Homo sapiens: one gene and its partners. The protein of the gene in region 1 purifies or fractionates together with the protein of each later gene. This does not show direct contact. Each region holds a gene or a part of one and is shown on either strand. Other genes may lie near its edges.

Region 1 (7,022 bases):
TTAATTTGCTGGGTGTGGTGGCACATGACTGTAGTCCCAGCTACTAGAGGCTGAGGAAGGAAGATCACTTGAGCCCAGGAGTTCAAGGCTGCAGTGAGGTATGATCACACTACTGCACTCCAGCCTGAGCAACAGAACAAGACCCTGTCTCTAAAAAGATTGGAAAAAAAAAAAAAAAGATTCAGGTTTCTGAGAGCTGCTCACTATCTCAGCAACTGTCCCAACCCTGCCCTAGCTCAGCGTTCCCCTGCCCCGCAGCAGCATCGCAGGACACCCCAGACAGAGGGGTAACGGTGGAGATTTTACTCACAAATGCTGAGCTTCCCCCAAGGCTATGCTGTCCAACACAGTTGCCACTAGCCGCATGTGGCTATTTTCATTAAAACTAAATAAAGTCAGTTCCTCAGTCACACTAGGCACAGTTCAAATGCTCCATAGCCACATGCAGCGAGTGGCTACTGTATTGGACAGCACAGATACAGAACACTTCCACCATCTCAGAAATGCTATGAGCGGCCAGGCGCAGTGGCTCACGCCTGTAATCCCACCACTTGGGAGGCCAAGGCGGGAGGATCCCTTGAGGTCAGGAGTTCGAGACTAGCTTGGACAATTTGGTGAAACCCCATCTCTACTAAAAATACAAAAATTAGCTGGGCGTGGCAGCACGCATCTGCAGTCCCAGCTACTCAGGAGGCTGAGGCAGGAGAATCGCTTAAACCCGGTAGGTGGAGGTTGCAGTGAGCTGAGATGGCTCCACTGCACTCCAGCCTGGATGAGAGAGCAAGACTCCGTCTCAAAAAAAAAAAAAAAATGTTATGAGGATGTGGCTAATGGCTGGTGTTGTTGATCAACAGATGCATCCAGAGTGCCTATTACATTGCACAGGTGGGTGCTGGGTGGCCCTCATGCGGTTCACTCTAGTAAATGAGCTCAACACCTGACTGCTCCCTGCCACTGCAAAGTATGGCTGATGACTCTCACCTAGCAGTTACTTTCCCAAACTAAATTACCCTTGTATGGAGCCCAAGGGGGCAGGGTGGTTTTTTATTTCGGTTTTTGGGTTGTTTGCTTTTTTCCCTTTTTTTTTTTTTTTTTTTTGAGACAGAGTTTCGCTCTTGTCACCAGGCTGGAGTGCAATGGTGCAATCTCGGCTCACCGCAACCTCCGCCTCCTGGGTTCAAGTGATTATCCTGCCTTAGCCTCCCGAGTAGCTGGGATTACAGGCATGCGCCACCATGCCTGGCTAATTTTGTATTTTTAGTAGAGATGGGGTTTCTCCATGTTGGTCAGACTGGTCTTGAACTCCCGACCTCAAGTGATCCACCCGCCTCGGCCTCCCAAAGTGCTGGGATTACAGGTGTGAGCCACTGCACCTGGCCTCCTGTTTTTTTGTTTTGTTTTGTTTTTTGTTTTTGAGACAAAGTCTCACTCTGTTGCCAGGCTGGAGTGCAGTGGCACGATCTCGGCTCCCTTGATCCTGGGCTCCACCTCCCAGGTTCAAGGGATTCTCCTGGCTCAGCCTCCCGAGTAGCTGGGACTACAGACATGCACCACCATGTCTGGCTAATTTTTGTATTTTTAGTAGAGATGGGGTTTCACTATGTTGGCCAGGCTGGTCTTGAACTCCTAACCTCATGATCCGCCCACCTTGGCTTCCAAAAGTATTGGGATTACAGGCATGAGCCACAGTGTCCGGCCTTCCCTTTTTAATTCAAAACACCTCAGCTACTAATAATTCTGCTTTACTTCCTCCTTTCTAGGAGGGCTCGGCTGGGCAGAGGAGCCACAAAACAGAAATTACTTGTCTAGAACTGATCCCTTCTGTGCTCTCACAACAGGACTTTAGATCCCAGGGCCTGAAGTTGGCCAGTGGGATCTTGATTCCTGATGTGGGAAAGTCAGCAACTACACCAGTTGTCTCCTCTCCACAGCTCTGTCTTCACCTGTACTGAGGGCTCCAAGGTTTCAGAACCTCATCCTCCTGCCTTCCACAGAGCCCCAGGCCAGTCCTGGCCTGCTCCCGACTCCCAACAAGAAGCATTATGGGTCACAATGGCAGCATCAGGGTGACACTCCCCTGCCACCCATCATGGGCAGAAGCTCCCAGCAATGGCAGCCCCGGTGGGCAGGGGAGGCTGCTGAGCAGTGTGAGGCTGGACCGGGGAGCAGGAGGCGCTGCAACCAACGGGCATATCTCACCACCCTGACCTCTCCCTGCAGGCACAGAGCAAGTTGGCCCTTAGGGGCTTCCATGTCCAATTCAGCAGCTACCTTTCAAGGTTGCTGTCAAGTCCTGGGATCCCTGTTGAGAGTGGAGTAAGGTTGTAGAACTTGTCTTCCATTAGAGCCTCAGAGACTGGGAGTGTTGTTCTGCGGCCAAGCCAGAACCACTGGAACCGGACAGAGGTCTGGCCATTTTCCCTGGGTCAGCCCCACTGTCTTCTGAGTTTACTGGGTTAACTGTCACATGGAGGCACCTCCTCCTTTATCACCTACTCTTGGCTGCGGGAGGTGACCTGGGTGGTGTCTGGTCATGCACTTTCTACCCTAAATTAAAAGCCATGGATAGGAGCAGGGACTTCTGAGACCTGTGCTGAGATAACTCCCTGCCTGAGGCATAGGCTGCAGGGCACAGGGACTAGCAAGGGCTTTCCAGCTTCCCCATGACTGCTCCCAGGCTGAGGAGTAGTCTTGGCAAAAAGCCAACACGATATGCAGGGATGGGAGCCTGAGAATGTGAATGAAGGCCGAGACCTCTGAATCCAATTCTGGATTTTTTTTTGCAGGGCCACGGCCTCATTCCCTCCCGGTTCCCTCTGAGGCAGCCAGGGAGGTCTGGGTCCCATGTGAGAGACGGGGGGCAGAGCTGAGTCATGGGCCTGCTGCGGTGGGGTTTGGAATGGAGAGATGCAAGTCCTGACCTGACAGGCTGGCCTTGGGTCAGGACAAAGGAAAACAGTCACACCTAAGGGCTCAGAACCACCTGTTGGAAGCTAACCTGTGGTGGACACACTGATGTGATGTGGCAGCACCTGGGCATCAACAACTCACTAGGTGCCCCCACGGCCACTAGTCTCTGGGCCAAGGAGCTCAGGGATTGAACTACAGACACAAGGAGGGCAGAGAACAGACATGGAAGGATCCCACCCTTGACCAGGGTGGTTGTAGATACTTAAGGGGCTGTGGGGTGTGGCACCAGTCCTGCTGGATTTCAACCTGAACATCTCCTAAGTAGCTGTGGGCCCCTGAAACAATTCAGTGATCAGTAACACATAGCAATCGTCAAACCCTTTGCTGCCTAACTCAGGCCAGGGGACTACACATCAACTCAGAGCCTTGGGCTCACGGGAGCCTCACACTACCCTGACCCAGAGATGCCATCACCCTGTGGGCCTGGAGGGCAGCGGGGCCAGCCTGGGCTACCCAGTTGAATACACCTTGGATTCAGCTCAGGGTCAGCTGAGAAATATCTCTGTGTAGGAAGTCTCTTGAAGGTAGTGTATTTTGAGGAGGATACGGAAGGAGAGAGTAGGGTGTTTTCTAAGGAGACGGAGAAGAAGACCTCACAGGATGGGGAAGCCTTGCTGGAGTTGGAGAGAATCAGGATGGGGTGGAGCTGAACCCAAGAATCAGCTTTACCCAGCTGGAGCCAAATGCAAAGGCAGTGGCACGGGGCTGTGCGCCCACCATCCCTCAAAAGCTCATTTAAGGAGCATGGCCCCCCTCAGGGCAGCCGGCTCACCTCGGCCCAGGGGGAGAGCAGCAGCCGGAGGTGGCTCGCTATTGCGCCGCCGCTCGACCAGGCAGCGCTGGAGCTCCTGCAGCTTCTTCTCCTCCTGCAGCATGGAGTGCTTCCGCTGCCGCCGAGCCTGCCTGCTGAGGTTCTCCTCCAGGCACAGCCGACGGGCTGCCTCTGTGATCTGCAGCTGCAGGGCCAGCTGGCGCTCCAGGCTGCTTAGGGGGTCCTGAGAGAGGGGGCAGGAGTGAGGCTAGAGAGAGGCAGGGAGATTGGGGGCCCAGAGGGTGGACAGCAGCCCTGACACAGTGCTCTAGGTCCCAGTCCTAAGCCCTGAGGACAGAAGAGAGGCAGACAGCAGCACCAATGGACGGACGTGGAGCAGAGGGTGAAGGAGTGGGAGGAGCCGAAAAGCAAACTTGTCAGCCTGAAAAGCTGGCATGGGCACCCACCCACCAGCCCACCTGCTGAACCGGGCAGGGTGGGAACCCAAGTGGGACACTTTCCCTCCTGACCCCAAAGGGTGGGGCAGGCTGGCCCATGGGAAACTGCTGCCATTGACGCCACAGGGGAAGGGCACCCAGGGCCTGACTGCCCCCACCTCCTCCTGAGAAAGGAGGACAGCCCTAGGGGCCAGAGTAACCTGTCTGAGCAGGCTATTGCCCGCTGGGTTGGTGGCTGGTGCTCTTAACTGATCTTCTGCCCAATGGGGTCAAACCCAGTGTCCTCCCTTGAGCTCCCAGCTCTCGGTTCCTTAGTGGCGCCCCTTCTCCACAGCCATTTGGGCTACATATTCATGGTGTCTCTCACCAACAGGCAGCCAAGCACCCTCACTGGGTGTGAAAGGGTGGAAGGGAACCTGCCAGGGTACTGAGCTGAGGTGTGGCGTCTCAGTGATCAGCTTTGGGGATCGAGGGGTACTGGCAGCTTCCTGAGGTTCCTCACCTCTCTGTGCAAGGCCCAGTCATCCAGTTTGTAAGCCGCTCCGATCCTGCGGCGAACCTTGGGGGCCTTTTCCCCTGGTTTGAGGGGATACTCCGCTGGCAAGGTGCCCGTCAGCTCCTGGGGAGGAAGCAGAGACCAGCCAGGTCCTCTCCACCTGCCCAGACTTGGCTCACTGGCCCCTGCACTGCATGTGCCTGCCTTCCATAGAAGCCCTGGTGGGACCACCCTCCACCCCACCTCATCCCATCCTCCACACTGTCTCTCCTGTCTTCAGACCCACTCTGCACTCCTCCCCTTTCCCTTCAGACCTCTTTCTGATCACTTCCTCCAGAGCTACACCGACCCGGGTTACAGCACTCATATGCACTTATGTCTGTGCAGTCCCTCTGCAGCCCCTGATGAACTTTGTTCTCTGTGCCTGGGCCCCTGCCTGGGTCTGACTCTTCTCCATCCAGCACAAGGTCAAACACTGCATCATGGGGACTCTGGGCCCCAGCCCCCAGCCTGATGTCCAGAATTCCCTCAAGAATGGGGCTCCCTCTCCCCAGCTCCCGCATCCCCACACGTGGCTCCACAGCTCCTGAGATGAACCCGATGCTTGTGTGTGCTGGCTGGGGCCTCACCGCTTCCCGAAGGCAGAGTCTCCTCAGCTCCTCCAGGCAGGCCTCCAGCCTCGCTTCCAGGGCCCTCTGCTGCTTGTGCACTGCATGGGTCAGCTCCTTCATTGGGGAGACCGGGCTGTCGGGGCCTGCAAGGGTTGGGGGGCACATGCTCAGGGAGGCTGAAGATGGAAGCCTCCTCCGTTACTTATTGACCACCCCTAGGGGAATGCACATGCACACACATGCACACACACACACACATCTCATGCCTGCCCACAAATTGCAGGCTGGCTGCTGTGGCCTGTGTCACAGCCACAAAACACCACGTCTCTTGGCTGCACAAATGTTACAACTCAGAAGGGAGGGTCGTCCCACCAGGTGACCTATGGTGGGGGAGTGCAGGGGAGGGAGTTCTGCCGGTGCAGTCCTCCCCCCACTCCTCCTCCCTTCTTCTTCCTCTTTTCCTTCTCCTTCTTCTTCCTGTCTCTCTCTCTCCCTCTCCCCACTACCCCTCTCTCTTGCACACACACATAAGCCTCTTCTTTCTTGTCCTCTGTCAAGACTAGGCCAGACTAGGCCCACAGGTCTGGCCAAACAGAGAGGCAAGACCTTCACATTGGCCAGATGATATATTTTTTTTGAGACGGAGTCTTGCCCTGTCGCCCAGGCTGGAGTGCAATGCCGCGATCTCGGCTCACTGCAACCTCCGCCTCCCAGGTTCAAACGATTCTTCTGCCTCAGCCTCCCACATAGCTGGGACTATGTGGTAGCCAGGATGGTCTCGATCTCCTGACCTTGTGATCCGCCCACCTTGGCCTCCCAAAGTGCTGGGATTACAGGCATGAGCCACTGTGCCTGCCTGAGATTTTTCAACTTCTCAGCTGGGGCTAAAGTTGAACATTGCAGATCCCTCTTCCAGATAGAACCAAAACTCCAAGCCAGTTTTCTCCAGGGAGGAAAACTCCACATGTCCCTGAGGCTCCAGCCCTTCCAGAACCTCCCCCTCCTCCCAGCAGAGGCCTCTCCCTCCCCTTCCTCTCAGCCCTTGGGAGTCTCAGCCCAGCCAGCCCTAGTGCCTGAGGGCTCAGGACTCAGGAGTCAGGGCCAGGGACCAGGGACCAGGGACTAGGGACTAGGGCAGGGGGATTTCCCTGAACACTCACCAGACTGCAGGATGATGCCACTGTCGGTGTCGCTGACCTCATCCTTACTCTCCATGGTGGATTTCTGGAAGGAGAGGGCACAGAGCAGGGAGGGGGGACACCGTGACCAGCCTGGGCCAGGTTGTGTAGGTAGCCTGGAGCTTCCCCAGCTTTAAAGAGAAAAGAGAACAATAACAAAAAAGCTAGATATGAACCATCTTGGTTACAAAAAGCTGAATAGATGCTTGAGAGCAGGGGAGTGGAAGGGAGGACTGTGCTTCAGGAACCATCTGGGGCAGGAGATTCTGGCACTGGGGGTGCTGACCTAGAGAAGGGGCTGTGGGCCTCACCAGCAAACCCTGTTCTCAGTGGGCTCTCAGGGGCCCAGCCTAACTCCCCTCTGGGCCAAAGTCCTCTAGGCCTAAGGGGGTCGACAGCTGTGGTAGCCACAAGAACCGCTCGACTGGGGAGAAGGGCAAGAAGGAAAAGAGCAGAGACAGGATAAAAAGGAAGGGGACAAAAAATGGGATGGGATAACAAAGAAAGGAGGAAGGAAGCCCAGCATGGTGGCTCACGCCTGTAATCCCAGCATTTCTG
Region 2 (7,396 bases), about 42 Mb from region 1:
GTTGAAGAGTACACTGCTTAACATCCCAGTGTTTGGGACAGATAAGAAAGAAAAGTCTTTACCTATTAATTAGTATAGAAAAAATATTTTTCAGGAATACAATTTTGTGGAATAAAAAACATTTTGACAAAAAAGCTTAAGCATATACAATATTTAGTACTAGATGAGCATTATCTAATTGCAATCAGATACAATAATAAAACTAGTTCTTTTTTTCAGTAGATAAAAAGGAACAAGAAACTGATACTTGGAACAAATCAAATAAATCACGAAGCACAGAATTTTAAAAAGTACCATAACAGCATTAATATGCAGAATGTATGCTAAGGTTTACAGTATAAATTTCACTATTCTAATGTTAAAATAGGGAACAGGCAGATTATTTCCATACAAAATAATCTCAGAACACAATGAAATTTACCAGTAAAATACATTTAAAGCATGATTGAATATAATCCCACATACTGAAATTTAGTTACAGATTTTTAAAGTTGAAATTTAAGATAAATAATAAATCCTTTAAAGAAGTCTATTAAAATGCAACGTAAAATTAAACGATTAAAATTATAAGGGAAGAAAAAAGCACTTTATGGCAAAATCAACCCAATAAAAAACATAAAGTTAATATATCTTAAAATGTAAATTCTAGTTTAAGTTAAAAGTAATCACTAATAACTCATTAATGATTACAACTCATTAACTGTGGCAAAATAAACATCATAGGTTCTTGTTATGCGGAAATTTTATTTTTAACACAGCCTATAGAGTTGATCATCATACTATTATAAAATACTATTGATTTTCAAGAAATAATATTAAAACCTACCGTTAAGTAGCTACCATTAGGTAGTAGGGAAAACACTGCAACACTTCGTTTTTATGAAAAGCACATGTTAGGACATCTTTCCTCATGTAGTAAGTTACTTTATGAAAGTAAAGGTCCATTTTAGGAGGATTACTACTTTTACATCACAAAGGCAAGAACTAGATTAATCACGGTGAGAATCAAGTTCAGTGATAGTCACAGCCTACTCAGGGAGCACATAGAGAAGCTTTCCATACATTTTCACAAGGTAAAAGGGCTAGGGGGACACAGGAAAGATCACTCTGCAGAATGGACCTTGAGTTTCGTTTGGCTCTGCCTTCGATTAACTGTCTGGCTTGGGCAGACAAGTCAGTTAACTTTCTGAGTTTTAGTGTCTTCCTCTGTCAAGTGCACTTGGGCTCTTCCGTGTTATCTACAAAGTTAGGAAGAGCTAAAGGCAGCCCTAGTTTTACTTTTTAAAAAATAATAACAGAAAAATACATAAGTTGCTATTCATCAGTGTACTGTTTCCAGAGCTGAATTCCTAAGTCTCTGAAGCATACCCAGTTAGGGTTATACCAGTGAAGATCCAGATACTATAGTCATAATGTCACTCTCTCCTCTCCCATTATTCCTCCACCTGCTCCTCCCCATCCTGCTTTATTCTCTCTTCTGGTGTGTTTTAAGAAGCAACGCCAGCAAACGGCTGCATACATTGTAAGCTTAAGGATTAAATCATTTTAAAATATGCATTTTCAATCAAATGTATCATCTGCTTCGCCAAATTCCTCCCAAATGGCTGAATTTTCATTAAGAGAATAAAAATGAGTTAACAACTTCGGTAACAGAAATGTACTGGGCCAGTTGTTTTGTTTGTTTTACTTGCTTAAAAAATAAACGGAAAGATGTATCCATTCCCTCAGGAACATAAATGCATTACCTGCCCAATGAAAAAACAATTCTGCTTGTTCATTTCCCTGACACAACAGCTTCGTTGTCAGGCCCTCTCTAGCCCAGGCTCCAACGTCACCTAGTAATTTTATATTGATCACCTTGGCAGTGCTTGGACTCCAGCAGGCATAGTCCCTGTCTTCCTTACATTCCTCAAAATAAATAAATAAATAAATAAATAAATAAATAAAACTCTACGAAACACCACCGAACAGAGATTCTGTGACTTAGTATACAAATCCCACGTCTTCCCGCCCTGTGTTAGGCAGCTGCAAATGTTATTTTTTCATCGCTTGCATAAAATGGAAGCGAAACGTACCAAAACCCTACATCTGAATCCTAGGACAATGAAGCCGACAGGAAGCCACTCTCTCCTCCCCCGGGTTTACTACAGAGCCAGAGCCTCCACGGGGTGCAGTCGCCAGGCAGGGTGCATGACACCGCGTCTTCCACGCCCTCCCAACGCGTCCAAAAGGTTGCTCGCCTGACCTCGCCAACCGCCTCACACCCCAAAACCAATCACACAAAAGGGATTGGCCCGGGGAGCTGCTCCAATGGGGGAAAAATCCCTTCCCCAGCGGCAGCGCAGCCATTCCCTCCAATGCTCCGCCCGCACCCCTCGCAAACTGCTACGGCGGAGGGGGGAGGGCTGCACAAAGCCAGTCGAAAGCTGAAAATGATTCAATGCACTTAGGGGATGCGGAGGCGGCAGCAAGGGGCTCGGGAAAGCCGGGGGGCCGCAGGACTGGAGCTCCGGGGGGCGGCGGGTGGGGGATGGGAAGGGTGGTCCCGTCAAGCCCCGGGTCCCAGGCGGGCAGAGGGTGGGGGTGGCGGCGCCGCGCGGAGCACCCGGGAAGCGCCCCCTTCGCGGTCCAGCCCCGCACCCCCGCCCCGCGGCGGGCGGCGCCCGAGTCCTCGCCGCAAACCCGAGGAGCAGGATGTGGAAAGCAGCCGCGGCGGTGGCTGCGGCTGCGGCGCCTACACCGAGCAGCCGATCGCATCACTTACCCCTTACCGTGGAGAGAGGGACCGGACGGGGGAGGCGGGGCGCGTCGCGTCCCGTGAGTCTCTCGCACGCCGTCCTCCCCCCACCTCGTCGTCGTCGTCGTCGCCGCTGTTGTCGTCGCTGCCGCTGCGGTCGAGCTCCGGGGCCCTCAGCTCCGCTGGGCAATAACGTTATTCCACACACGCCCCACACATAGCGGTAACGGCAAAGACCGACTGCCTAGTGCGCAGGCGCCTCGGGAAAGGGCGAGGAGCCGGACCCTATCCCCTCCTGCCCAGTTCCAACGATCCCTTACTGCGCAGGCGCCACACACAGACAATGAAAAGGGGTTGTGCGAGGGTCTCACCCACACGCTTTTCCAGCTTGCCCACTGCGCAGGCGTGCCCCGAAAGACCAGCTTGAACAATGAAGAGGACCTCGGCGTTAGGTGGGACCGCAACCAACAAGGACTACAGTTCCCAGCGGGCAGAGCGCCAACTCCAAGTGAAGGTCCGGTTGCTGGGCATGCTAGGAGTTGTAGTGTCGGCCGCCTTTACAATCTAGGCTGTTTGGAAGATTTAGAGCTTCTATTTCTTGAAGATTTATTCGACCGTTTTAAAAAATCTCGCAACTGAAGCAGGGTTCAGAGTTTACTATCTGCGTCCTTGAGTAGCCTGGGGATCAACTGCTGCATATTAGCAAATTTCGAAGCGTCAAGGCCTTCAGTGAGCCCTTTCTGTCATTTGGGTGGTCCAGGCAGCTGAAGAGTGGGATGGAGGCGGGACTAAACCAGGCTGGGCTGGAGGAAAAGGGCGGGGCCTGCAAGCCTGTCTCTTGGCAGCAGGCTCTGGCAGCCAAACCGTCCAAGCTAGCGCCTGGAGCGCAGTGGTTTCTGGGAATTGTAGTGTAACTGGAAGGCCCTGAGGATTGTCGAGCTTGCAGGTTCTGAACGTGAGGACTACAACTCCCGACGTGCAAAGCGAGGGCCAGTGGGTGGGAAGAGCCCCCAAGAGCTCTGTGCGGGATTCTAGGCTCCCCTGTGACAGCCGCGGCAGGAAGCAGGCGGGCGCTCCCCGGCCACAGGCCTGTTGTTCTCGGAAGGGAGAAAGCTGGACATTTCCCCACGTAACTCCCAGCTCTGGGCCTAGAGTGCGTGCATGGCGAAGTCCCCGGAGAACTCTACCCTGGAGGAGATTCTGGGGCAGTATCAACGGAGTCTCCGGGGTGAGTTGCTCCAAACCTCTGTCCCTAGCCCCGAGGTGCCCAGGGCCTAGTGGGCGGGAGCAGACCAGGTGCGTTTCCTAACACCTGGGTTCTGCCCCGTCCACGCTACAGAGGAGCAAGATGGATGTTGCTGTGGTCTTGAGGAGGATGAAATAGTTTGATTTAGTTTTTACAGTTAAGCAACGATGTTTCCTCAGATTCCCGTAGTTACCTCAATCAACTCCTTGATCTTAACTTGGCATCTTTCTCAACCGGCGACAGCAGAAACTCTTGGATAGCTCTATGCCATTTTTGTTCAGTTCCCATACGTTGCTATTTAATCCAATAAAAGTCTGATTCACAGTTTTTACACATTTAAATTATGGCACAGTGGATTGAATGTGATTTATGGGATCAGTGGGGGGAAACACTAATAATTATTTTAATCACAAGAGCCCCCTTTTAATTGATTTAGGCTATTTACATACAGTAAATCATCTGCAGCTTACACCAATCGTGTGAATATTTTACACATGGGGAAAGCGAAGCTCAGAGAGGTTGAATTACAGGCCAGAGCCCACACAGCTGGTTAGTTGCAGAGCCAGGTATTATCAGGCTTGCCTTCAAAGCCTATGTTTGTATTTACTAATCAAGCCATAATTACTATTATCAAAACCTTATTAATTTAGATTTTCTTACCACATTACCATATGAGCAAGTATCTGTACAAATAATGTCTGTATTTATTTTCCTTTAAGCTCTGTTGGACTTAATGTCTGTACTTTTAGATGGCGCTGTCAACTTGGACAGCATATATAACATCTAGAAATTTCGATTCTGTTATAATGGAAGTTATGGAATTGTCCATAGGGTTATTGTGGGGAGCAAATGAAATAATCCCCATAAAGCAGTGATTTTAAGACTTCTTAAAATGTTTACCTATAGTAAGAAATAAATTTTATATGGGACATATGTGTACATATAAACTATAAGTTTCACTGAAGAATTTTTATTCTACTAAATGTAATAAACTCTGCTTTCTATTCTGTTGCATTTTCATAAGCCTCTAGGTCATGACTGTTTGCGACATTGAGAATACTAAGTTATGAAGCATGTGTTGTTCTGCATAATATGCCTACTATGTGTCAGTGCCTCCTACTATGTGTTAAGCATACTAGGTGCTAGGCATGCAGTAAGGAACAAGACAAAGTTCCTATCCCCATGGAGCTTCTGGATTAGTTGGGGAGAAAGACAAAAAAAAAAAATAATTATAGATTACTATGATAGAAAGTAAGGGTAAAGATCAGTGCTTACTAGACAAGCACTCATTAAATGTTAATTGTTATTTATACTTGTTACTTAAAGCAAAGTGAAGGTTTTTCAATATTAGAAAGTTTATCTTCTCATGACTCTAGATTTTATAAGGGTTACTATGTATTGTTACATCTGTCAATTGTGTTAACAAACTGTCGACATTCTCAGTATTCAAACTGCAGGAGTAAAAAAATCGGTTTTAATGAACACCTTCCTCAACCTACTGATGTTTCAAGAGCTGTTAGATACAAAATAAGCACTTCTAACTTTTCATTTGGAAGCAAGAAAAATACTGTGCACAATGATATGAGTAATTGTAATTTTTAAGATTGGCAAAAATTTTTTGTTTTCATTGAAAGTTTTTCCTGATGCTTCTCTTCCTTTGACCTTATTTTAAGTCTTTATATAATTGTCGGAGGCTGTTTAACATTAGGCATTTTGACGCAGTAAAGGGGTTCATTTTAAATTAATGTTATAGTAATATGTTTAATACTAGTGGTACTGCTTTCAATAATTACAGAATGAAGGGTTTTCATTTAAGGATAATACATTTTAAAATTAGTTTGAAATAAAATTTAAATTTAGTGTGATAACAATATAAGGTAGTGGAAACATTTCACCAAGAGCAAATACGAAGGATAGAAAAAGTTAAACAACTTAAAAAAAAACGTATTCATAATTTTAACAGTGAATCAGGAAATGTAACCTGAAATGTTTATGGGTTTTTCAGGACATATCATTTATTTAGTAGCACTTTTATTTTTGTATGTTAGCTTATATAACAGCTTCTGGAAGGAAACAAAACAGAATTAACTCTGAACTTAAGTACAGTCAGAAGTTCTTCACAAATATAAATTGCTATTTTTGAGTAGTATAATTTATTTATTTAGAGATGGAGTCTCACTCTGTCATCCAGGCTGAAATGCAGTGGTGCCATCTCGGCTCACTGCAGCCTCTGCCTCCTGGATTCAAGCAACTCTCCAGCCTCAGCCTCCCAAGTAGCTGGGATTACAGGCACGCGCCACCATGCCCGGCTAATTTTTGTATTTTTAGTAGAGACTGGGTTTCGCCATGTTGGTCAGGCTGCTCTAGAACTCCTGACCTTAAGTGATCCGCCCACTTCAGCCTCCCAAAGTCTGGGGTTATAGGCGTGAGCCACCGCGCCCGGCTGATAATTCCCTTTAAAGTAAAGTATTCTGTTCCTTAATAAACAATGCTGGAGTTATGTGGAAATTCCTTATTTTGAGTGTGCCTAATAATTTAAGAATTGTATTACTATGTAGTAAGATAAAATGCAGTTTAAAGTTCTATGTCTTATTTTGTTTTGGTTTTGTTGGTTTGTTTGGTTTTGTCTACCCACCATTACTTCCCCAAATGCCTTGCGTAGTTTATGATTAATGGAAGCCTAATAAACAGTCTTGGTCTTTCCTCACCGGTTTTTCCTCTAGCTTGTAAATAACTGCACATGTAGTCACTACTAATATCCCTTCATTGATATTCAGCCAGGAAGTGGCCGCATAAAAATGCAAAATGCTTTCCCTATTTTCCGTGATCGTACTTCCATTTTAAAAAGATCTTTTCCTGGGGCCGGGCGTGGTGGCTCACGCCTGTAATCCCAGCACTTTGGGAGGCTGGGGCGGGCGGATCACGAGGTCAGGAGATGGGAGACCAGCCTGGCTAACACGGTGAAACCCCGTCTGTACTAAAAAAAAAAATACAAAAAACTAGCCGGGCGTGGTGGCGGGCGCCTGTAGTCCCAGCTACTCAGGAGGCTGAGGCAGGAGAATGGCATGAACCCAGGAGGTGGAGCTTGCAGTGAGCCGAGATCGCGCCACTGCACTCCAGCCTGGGCGACAGAGCGAGACTCTGTCTCAAAAAACAACAAAAACAAAAACAAAAACAAATTTCCTTATTTCTTTAATGTTGGTACTATTATGGTATATCAAAATTTGAAGTTCTAATGTGAAAACTGAGTCAGCATTTACTTTCTTGTTTTTAAAATGAGGTTGGGCGCGGTGGCTCACGCCTGTAATCCCAGCACTTTGGGAGGCCGAGGCGGGCAGATCACCTGACGTCTGGAGTTCGAGAACAGCCTGAGCAATATGGAGAAACCCTGTCTCTACTAAAAATACAAAATG
Region 3 (7,663 bases), about 41 Mb from region 1:
CCTGCAAATGAAGGAGGAGGATGTCCTTAAGTTCCTTGCAGCAGGAACCCACTTAGGTGGCACCAATCTTGACTTACAGATGGAACAGTATATCTATAAAAGGAAAAGTGATGGCATCTACATCATAAATCTGAAGGGAACCTGGGAGAAGCTTCTGCTGGCAGCTCGTGCTATTGTTGCCATTGAAAACCCTGCTGATGTCAGTGTTATATCCTCCAGGAATACTGGCCAGAGGGCTGTGCTGAAGTTTGCTGCTGCCACTGGAGCCACTCCAATTGCTGGCCACTTCACTCCTGGAACCTTCACTAACCAGATCCAGGCAGCCTTCTGGGAGCCATGGCTTCTTATGGTTACTGACCCCAGGGGCTGACCATCAGCCTCTCACAGAGGCATCTTATGTTAATCTACCTACCATCGCTCTGTGTAACACAGATTCTCCTCTGCGCTATGTGGACATTGCCATCCCGTGCAACAACAAGGGAGCTCACTGAGTGGGTTTGATGTGGTGGATGCTGGCTCGGGAAGTACTGTGCATGCGTGGCACCATTTCCCGTGAACACCCATGGGAGGTCATGCCTGATCTCTGCTTCTACAGAGATCCTGAAGAGATTGAAAAAGAAGAGCAGGCTGCTGCTGAAAAGGCAGTGACCAAGGAGGAATTTCAGGGTGAATGGTCTGCTCCAGCTCCTGAGTTCACTGCTACTCAGCCTGAGGTTGCAGACTGGTTTGAAGGTATACAGGTGCCCTCTGTGCCTATTCAGCAGTTCCTACTGAACAATGGAGCACTCAGCCTGCCACGGAATACTGGTCTGCAGCTCCCACTGCTCAGGCCACTGAATGGGTAGGAGCAACCACTGAATGGTCTTAAGCTGTTCTTGCATGGGCTCTTAAGCAACATGGAAAAATGGTTGATGGAAAATAAACATCAGTTTCTAAAAAATAAAAAAATAAAAAATAAAAATAAAAGACTTGGAAGTCATCATTACGTGGATGGTAGTTTTTCTTTTTTTTGGAGACAGGGTCTCACTCTGTCATCCAGGCTGGAGTGCAGTGGTGTGACCTCAGTTCACTGCAACCTCTGCCTCCCAGGCTCAAGAGATCTTCCTACCTCAGCCTCCTGAGTAGCTGGTGCACACCACCACTCCCTGCTAATTTTTGTATTTTTTGTAGAGATGAGGTTTCGCCATGTTGCCCAGGCTGGTCCTGAGCTCAAACAATCTGCCCACCTTGGCCTTCCAAAGTGCTGGAATTACAGACGTGACCCACTGCGCCCGGCCCTGGACAGTAGTTTAAATGTGAGAATGGATACAATCACTGAAAGAACATGTAGAATGAAGGGGAAGAGAAGCTAATTAAATAAATGATTAGAGAGATAAAAACAAAACCGTGGAATATAGTGTTACGGAAACCAGTGGGATTGAGTATCTGTCACAAGATGGATACACAAGGGATAATAATCATCACAACCTCAAATTCAATAGGAAAGCCCAAATAAGAAAGGGAGAATTCAGTGGTAATAGCTATTGATTTGGTGGTAATAACCATGGTGTCCACAAAACAGTGGGTACAAAAAGCAGATCATAGAAAGGGAGGCCTCTATCCCTATAGCTTCCACTAAGATGACTTGCCATGGTCTAATCCTCCATTTTCCAAGTCCGATGGTCAATTTCCAGTTATCTTAACCTGTTTTATGACAGGAATGATGGAGATTATAGCCCCTTCTTGAAGCTTTTTTTTTTTGGTTTGTTTTATAAGACCCCTCACTTTTGAGTTTTATTCTTCCTATTTCCTGGCTACTCTTTTTAAATAAATTTTGCTGTATGTTCCTCCTCTCTGACCTTTATTAGTTGGAATGCCTCAGGATTAGAGGTCTCAGTCTTTAAACTGCTTCTCTTTGCTTCCACATTGATTTCTCTCCACCCCATGGCTATGTATGCCATTTATAACTTAATTAATCCTTAATTTATACCTCTCATTGTCCCTTGTATGAGCCCCAGGTTCATATTTCCAATTGTTTACTCAGTAGCTCCATTCGGAAATCTAATAGGGATCTCCAGTTTAATATGTTTGAAGTAAAATTGGACATTCCCCCCCGCCAAAAAAAACCTTGCTCCTGTCTCCTCACATGCGCTCTCAGTAAACGACATCACTATTTATCCAGTTACTCAAATCAAACTGATTTTTGTACTTTGACTTTTGTACTTTTTTACTGATTTTTTATTCTTGTCTTTATCTTGTACCCCACATTCAATCTATTAACACATCACCTCTCCACCACTTTCAGAGTACATCCTGAATCCTACCAATTTCATTGCAACACTAGTTTTGCAGGTCTTCTGCAATAGCTTCCTAACTGGTCTTTTAGCTTCTATTTGGCTTCCCTATAGGGAATTCTCAAAGAATAACCAGAGTGAACATCTTCAATTATAAATCAGATCATGCCACTCTTCTACTCAAAACCCTCCATGGCTTCCTAGCATTCTTAGGATAAAATTCAAAGTCCTTTCTTTGGTCCATAAGTCCGTAAGTGATCTGGCTCCCATCTTGTTTCTCCAAACTAAGTTCCTATCTATTCTTTTGCCACAGTGGCTTCCTTGCCAAGCACACTCAAGCTGCAGGGTCTTTACCTTGTTGTTTCTTCTGCTTGAAATATTCTTTCCCAAGTATGTATAGCTTATTGTCTCACTTCAAACCTTTATTTAGATGTCACCTCAGCAGAGGGGCCTTCTCTGAATCCCCTATGTAAAAGAGCACACCCATCCAGGTAACCCATTTTTATTCTGCTTTATTTTCCTTTACAGTACTCTTTATAACTTTATTATCTGTGTGTCTCTCCCCTCCTCCTATGCTCCCAACCCTTGCACTAATAAGTTCCATGAATGCAAGAATCTTGGTTCTATTCACTGTTGCAGCCCCAGCACATAGAACAGGGCCTTCCAGAGCAGGAATTCAATAGTTGTTGACTGAATGAATGAAAGAATGAATAGGACGGTGGGGCATTAAATAGCTACTTTGTGCTGTAGCCCTCTTCTAGGTGTTGAGATTACAAAGATGATAAAAACACAGTCCTTGCCCTCAAGAATTTATATTCTAGTAGTATAGCTGGATCACAAACATAATTTTAGATTAAATGTTATAGGTAAAAAATGTTATTAAAAAAACAGTGCAGAGTAAGGGGATAGAGGAGGATGACATGAGGTTCCATTTTAGTTACAATAGTCAAGAGCTGCCTGTGTTAGGAAGTAGGATTTCAATAGACACCTCAAGTCTAGTAAATATCTAGTAGATGGACATTCCAAGAAAAGGAAAAAAACCCTAGGGCTGGGACATGCTTTGACTGGAGTGACAGTAAGGCTAGTGAGGCTAGAGCAGAGCTAGGCAGTGTGGGAGGAGATGAATCAGATAAATAGGCAGGTGCTAGATCAGATCATGTAGGGTCCTCCTTAGAGGCAATTCATTTTTTGATGGCCTCTAAGGCTATCATACTTTTGACTTTTATTATGTGATGGGAATTGGAGGTTTTGAGCAGGGTGGGGACTGGGGAAATAATACGACATTACTTTTTTTTTGAGACGGAGTCTCATTCCATTGCCCAGCCTGGAGTGCAGTGGTGCGATCTCAGCTCACTGCAACCTCCGCCTCCGGGTTCAAGCAATTCTCCTGCCTCAGCCTCCCAAGTAGCTGGGATTGCAGGCGCGCTCCACCATGCCGGGTAATTTTTTTTTTTTTTTGTATTTTTCGTAGAGACGGGTTTCACCATGTTGGCCTGGTTTCAAACGAGTTTCGAACTCCTGACCTCAAGTGATCCGCCCACATCCGCCTCCCAAAGTGCTAGGATTACAGGCATGAGCCACCGCGCCCGGCCAGACCTTACATTTTTAAAAAGCACTCTGGCTGCCTTATGTTTAACTGTAATGGCAATAATGGAAGTAGACAAACGAGGTAAGTTTCTATTGCGGTAGTCTTAAGTAATATGTAATGACTTGGAATAGGAGAGTAGCGGTAGGGGAGGTGAGAAAGGGTCAGATTTTTGCACCCTGGGCTTCTGGTAAGAAAAAAAAAAAAAATACCCCAGCCTGGCAGCTGGGAGTAATCCTCTGCAGGGTTACTGTAGGTGTCATAACGAAACAGAGTACAAAAGTCACCCCACATCACCCGGCCCACTCTTGGGAACCTTTACCCACACCACCTCTCTTCAGAAAAGAGCTTCTGGAATAGCTACACCTCAAGCTACTGAGCCCCTTCTTTAAAAATACGTAAATGGGGACTCTCAGGGGAAAATGGGCCTCGATAGTATAGAAACCACTTAAGGAAACAAAGCCCTGAAAGGAAACGGGGATTTTCAGAAGAAATCCTTGTGGCAATCATTGCTCGTTCCAGTGTTCAAAAACGGCAAAACTGGCCATCATCCAGGAAGTGGCCTGCCAATCCGCTGGAAATTTAGTTTATTTCTATCACAACTCTGGGTAGCCCCTAACTCGCATTTGTTTAGAGTATCACAAGATAAGCAAGCCCGAAGAAACTACAAAAACAACTTTGCCTCTTCGGTAATGCGCAGGCGCCTCTCGCTCTGTTTTCCGTTGGCCTTAAGCCCCGCCCCTTGTGCGTCCTTCGAGGAGGGTTGCGAGCCGTGAGCTCGCGCGACCACTCTTCCCTCAGTCTTCTCGAGCACATCGTCGCAAACGGGGCCGGAAAGCGTGGCAGCGCAGGCGCAAGCGCAGAGAGCGGAGGCGGTGGTGGTGGCGGCCGCTGGCCAGTGTAAGATGGCGGCGGCGTTGGTGGTGGCAGTGGACGGGGCGGCTGGGCCTGGAACAGTCGGAGCAGCCGCTAGCAGAAGGATGACCCAAGACGGGAAGCGGGCTGCTGAGCCTCGCCGATTCCCGTGCTTGTAACTGCCCCAGCCGGACACCCCCCCTCCCTTGACCTACCCGGTCTGTGTCTCGTTCCGGCTCGGCCTGCGCCCCCCCTCGCTTCCCAGCCGGTTTCCCCTAAGGATGGGCCTGACCCGTATCCCAAGCTCTTAGCGCTCAGGTCTTTTCCTTCCGCCGACCCGAAGTCATCGCTGGGAGTACTGGTTGCCCTTTCCTCAGGTCAGCCCTGGTGTTGCCCCCAAGAGCCAGCCGCACAGTTCACAGGGACGCCTTGCTTCGTTGGGTGACCCATGTGTGCGCTCCTATTTCTCCCCTTAGATTGAGGGACACGGCTCGCCCTGCGTCTCCCCGTCACCTCAGGGCCACCGCGCAATGTGTCCCCCTCCCCCATCCCAAGTTCCCAGGCCCAGCACCTTGTACGGAAGGCGGAGGTCCAAGAATTCCGGAGTCGGTTGTTGTCTTGTGGTCTTGTACCCTTTGTAATATAATTATCTTAGTTTACCTCCTCTAACTCCCAAATCTTTTAGGATATCTTAGAACGGTCCCATTTGGTCCCTGTTAGTTGGAAAGCATCTGGTGGCTTGAATTTCTGACTCATGATTGTTACTGGAGTCTCTGTAAACAAACCGGCACTAGCGCTATCACATTCTCTCCGGGATTTCCCCCCCTGCTCTGTGGCTTCTTGTTGAGAGGTTGTTTGGTTATGGTTTAGCGTTGAAAAGATTCAGGTTATCCTTTTAAATGACTTTACGTTTTAGTGGAGCTGGGAGATTACTTGCCTGGCTTCTAATCTTCATGTTGGTTCATTTTATTTCCATATGTGTGTGGGTTATTTGTTCAGTAATTAGAATTAGATAAAGTATTCTGCTTTTAAGTAGTTTTGAGAAGGCCTAAAAATACTAAAGTGTATTCATAAATATTTTTATTATGTTCAGTAGAAGACACACCTTTGCCATGTAAATTTTAACTTTTCTCAGTCCTTCAGTGAATCTACAGACCTATTTTCTCAGGAGCTCAGCCTGGCCTTACTTCAGTGATAAAAGGAGGAAAGGTGAGTGGGAGTTGGAGGCATTAAAATTCTTGAGTTCAAGACAGACTGCGCTGATGCTCAACTGCTGACCACTAAAGTCATAAAATTCCTACCAGTTTCCCAAAGAGCTTGAGTGTTGTTCTTGGCTTTGTTCCAGCTCTGGTTGAATTACTTTTACAAGTTTAATTGTCTGTGGGCTTCTTGTCTTTCTGTCCTAAACTATTGCTGTGTATCTCCAAATGACTTAAGCCTAGAAGTGAATGTGTGCCCCCTGCCCCATGTCTTCTTTTCTTCTTTATTCATTTTCCTTGTATTTTGTCTTTGTGTCGATCATATTTTTTACGTTGTTAAAAACTGGAACTTAGTTTGCCTGAGTTCTGTTCATCCTGTTGTCAAATCAGGTCTCTTCCCCTCTCACAGCTTCGGGTTGTCATCCCTTGGTATTTAGAGGAGAATATTTAGCTGCTTGTGACTAAAAGCTGGGGAGTGATGAGTGATGCTGCCTTTAGTTGGTGTCTGAGTCCAGTCTATTTCAGAATTCCGACTTTTTAGGATATAGTGGGAAATTTTTTGTAAAAAAAAAAAAAAAATAGTGGCTGCTCTTTCTTTTGTAGCTGGTCTGAAGAATTCTTGGTTAGCAGAAGAAACATCCTGGGCATTCAGCAGCATGGGTTGGTGCCAAAAAGGGAGTCAGAACATACTTATAAATGCAGTTTTCGTGAGGCTTTCAGGTTTCTGGTAGCAGAGACTAGAGGCTCATGGCATGTGACAGAAAAGCTAAGTGACTGGAAGGTAGGCCTGGCCAATTCCTAATATCTTTATGATTTGTAGTAGGAAAATATTGAGTGACACTGGTGAGTTTTATTCCATCTGATGACTGAATTAGAAAATGCTCATCATGGACTGGAATAAAATTATTAGTGATGGTGTATATGTGTATCAGTAAGATATAAAGAGAAAAGTACAGTCTTTAGAGATTGGACAGACTTTTAATTTAATTTTAAGGTTTAAATACTAGACTAATATTTCTTAGCCATGTGACCTTGAGCAAGTTACTTAAACTTCTCTGACTCTTAATTTCCACAACTCTAAAAGTGTGATAATACCACTTACCTCCCAGGGTCATTGTTAGTATTATAGGGAATCTATTTAAAGCTCTTAGTAATCTAAGAACACGTGGTACACACTCAAAAAATGTTGTTTTTTGGTTTTTTTTTTTTGCACATCATTGATACAGCTTTGAATAAGTTATACGTTAATTTATGCTTCTTTTACATTTTGCCTTAGAACACATTTTTCTGGTTAATTTTCCCAACTGATTTTTAATTGGTCAGCTTAGACGTGTCCTTTGTAAGTGCCCACCTAGAGTTGTCTTCTGAACATGAAACCCTTGGTGGGGGTTCATAACCAGAGGACAGAGAATATTAGATATTGGTGTATGTATATTTCAAAATGTATTCTTAAACATCAGTAAATTTTTTTGTTCATTGGTTCCTTCATCTTGGACTCTCTGTTAGCACACCTGATCAGAGTTGGCCGTGTTGTAATTCTTTCCCTCTCTGCTGCAATGTTGTTTACTTCTACTGCAACTATTCTTTATACTTTCCTTTTTTGCCATGAAGGGAATACATTTTTTCCTTCTTGTTGGGCTATACAGTGATCCTCATCAACAAATTATCAAAGAACTGTATGAGGAAAAGGTCTCTTTTTTTAAAAGTGAATCAGGGCTGGGGAGTTAGGAATGAAGAGGTTTTTTTTGTTT

What was found. The genes of interacting proteins can lie anywhere in the genome.
Region 2: the proteins of INAVA (region 1) and CEP170 purify together in Homo sapiens (co-immunoprecipitation; 4 studies listed by BioGRID and IntAct, with this or other methods). This does not show direct contact.
Region 3: the proteins of INAVA (region 1) and DCAF8 purify together in Homo sapiens (affinity purification with mass spectrometry; 2 studies listed by BioGRID and IntAct, with this or other methods). This does not show direct contact.

What each region holds. Positions count from the first base shown.
Region 1 is NC_000001.11:200,897,880-200,904,901, reverse strand, and holds part of INAVA (innate immunity activator protein), read right to left. Parts: intron 6,596-7,022; coding exon of another isoform or gene 6,502-6,595; coding exon 6,447-6,501; intron 5,430-6,446; coding exon 5,305-5,429; intron 4,799-5,304; coding exon 4,682-4,798; intron 3,966-4,681; coding exon 3,743-3,965; intron 1-3,742. UniProt on the Homo sapiens protein: Expressed in peripheral macrophages and intestinal myeloid-derived cells, is required for optimal PRR (pattern recognition receptor)-induced signaling, cytokine secretion, and bacterial clearance.
Region 2 is NC_000001.11:243,252,276-243,259,671, forward strand, and holds the start of CEP170 (centrosomal protein of 170 kDa), read right to left. Parts: upstream 3,007-7,396; 5' UTR 2,765-3,006; exon of another isoform or gene 827-2,764; intron 1-826. Other genes in the region: SDCCAG8 (serologically defined colon cancer antigen 8), read left to right, coding at 3,899-3,965.
Region 3 is NC_000001.11:160,259,544-160,267,206, reverse strand, and holds the start of DCAF8 (DDB1- and CUL4-associated factor 8), read left to right. Parts: upstream 1-4,657; 5' UTR 4,658-4,758; exon of another isoform or gene 4,759-5,090; intron 5,091-5,284; exon of another isoform or gene 5,285-5,458; intron 5,459-5,848; 5' UTR 5,849-5,922; intron 5,923-7,663. UniProt on the Homo sapiens protein: May function as a substrate receptor for CUL4-DDB1 E3 ubiquitin-protein ligase complex.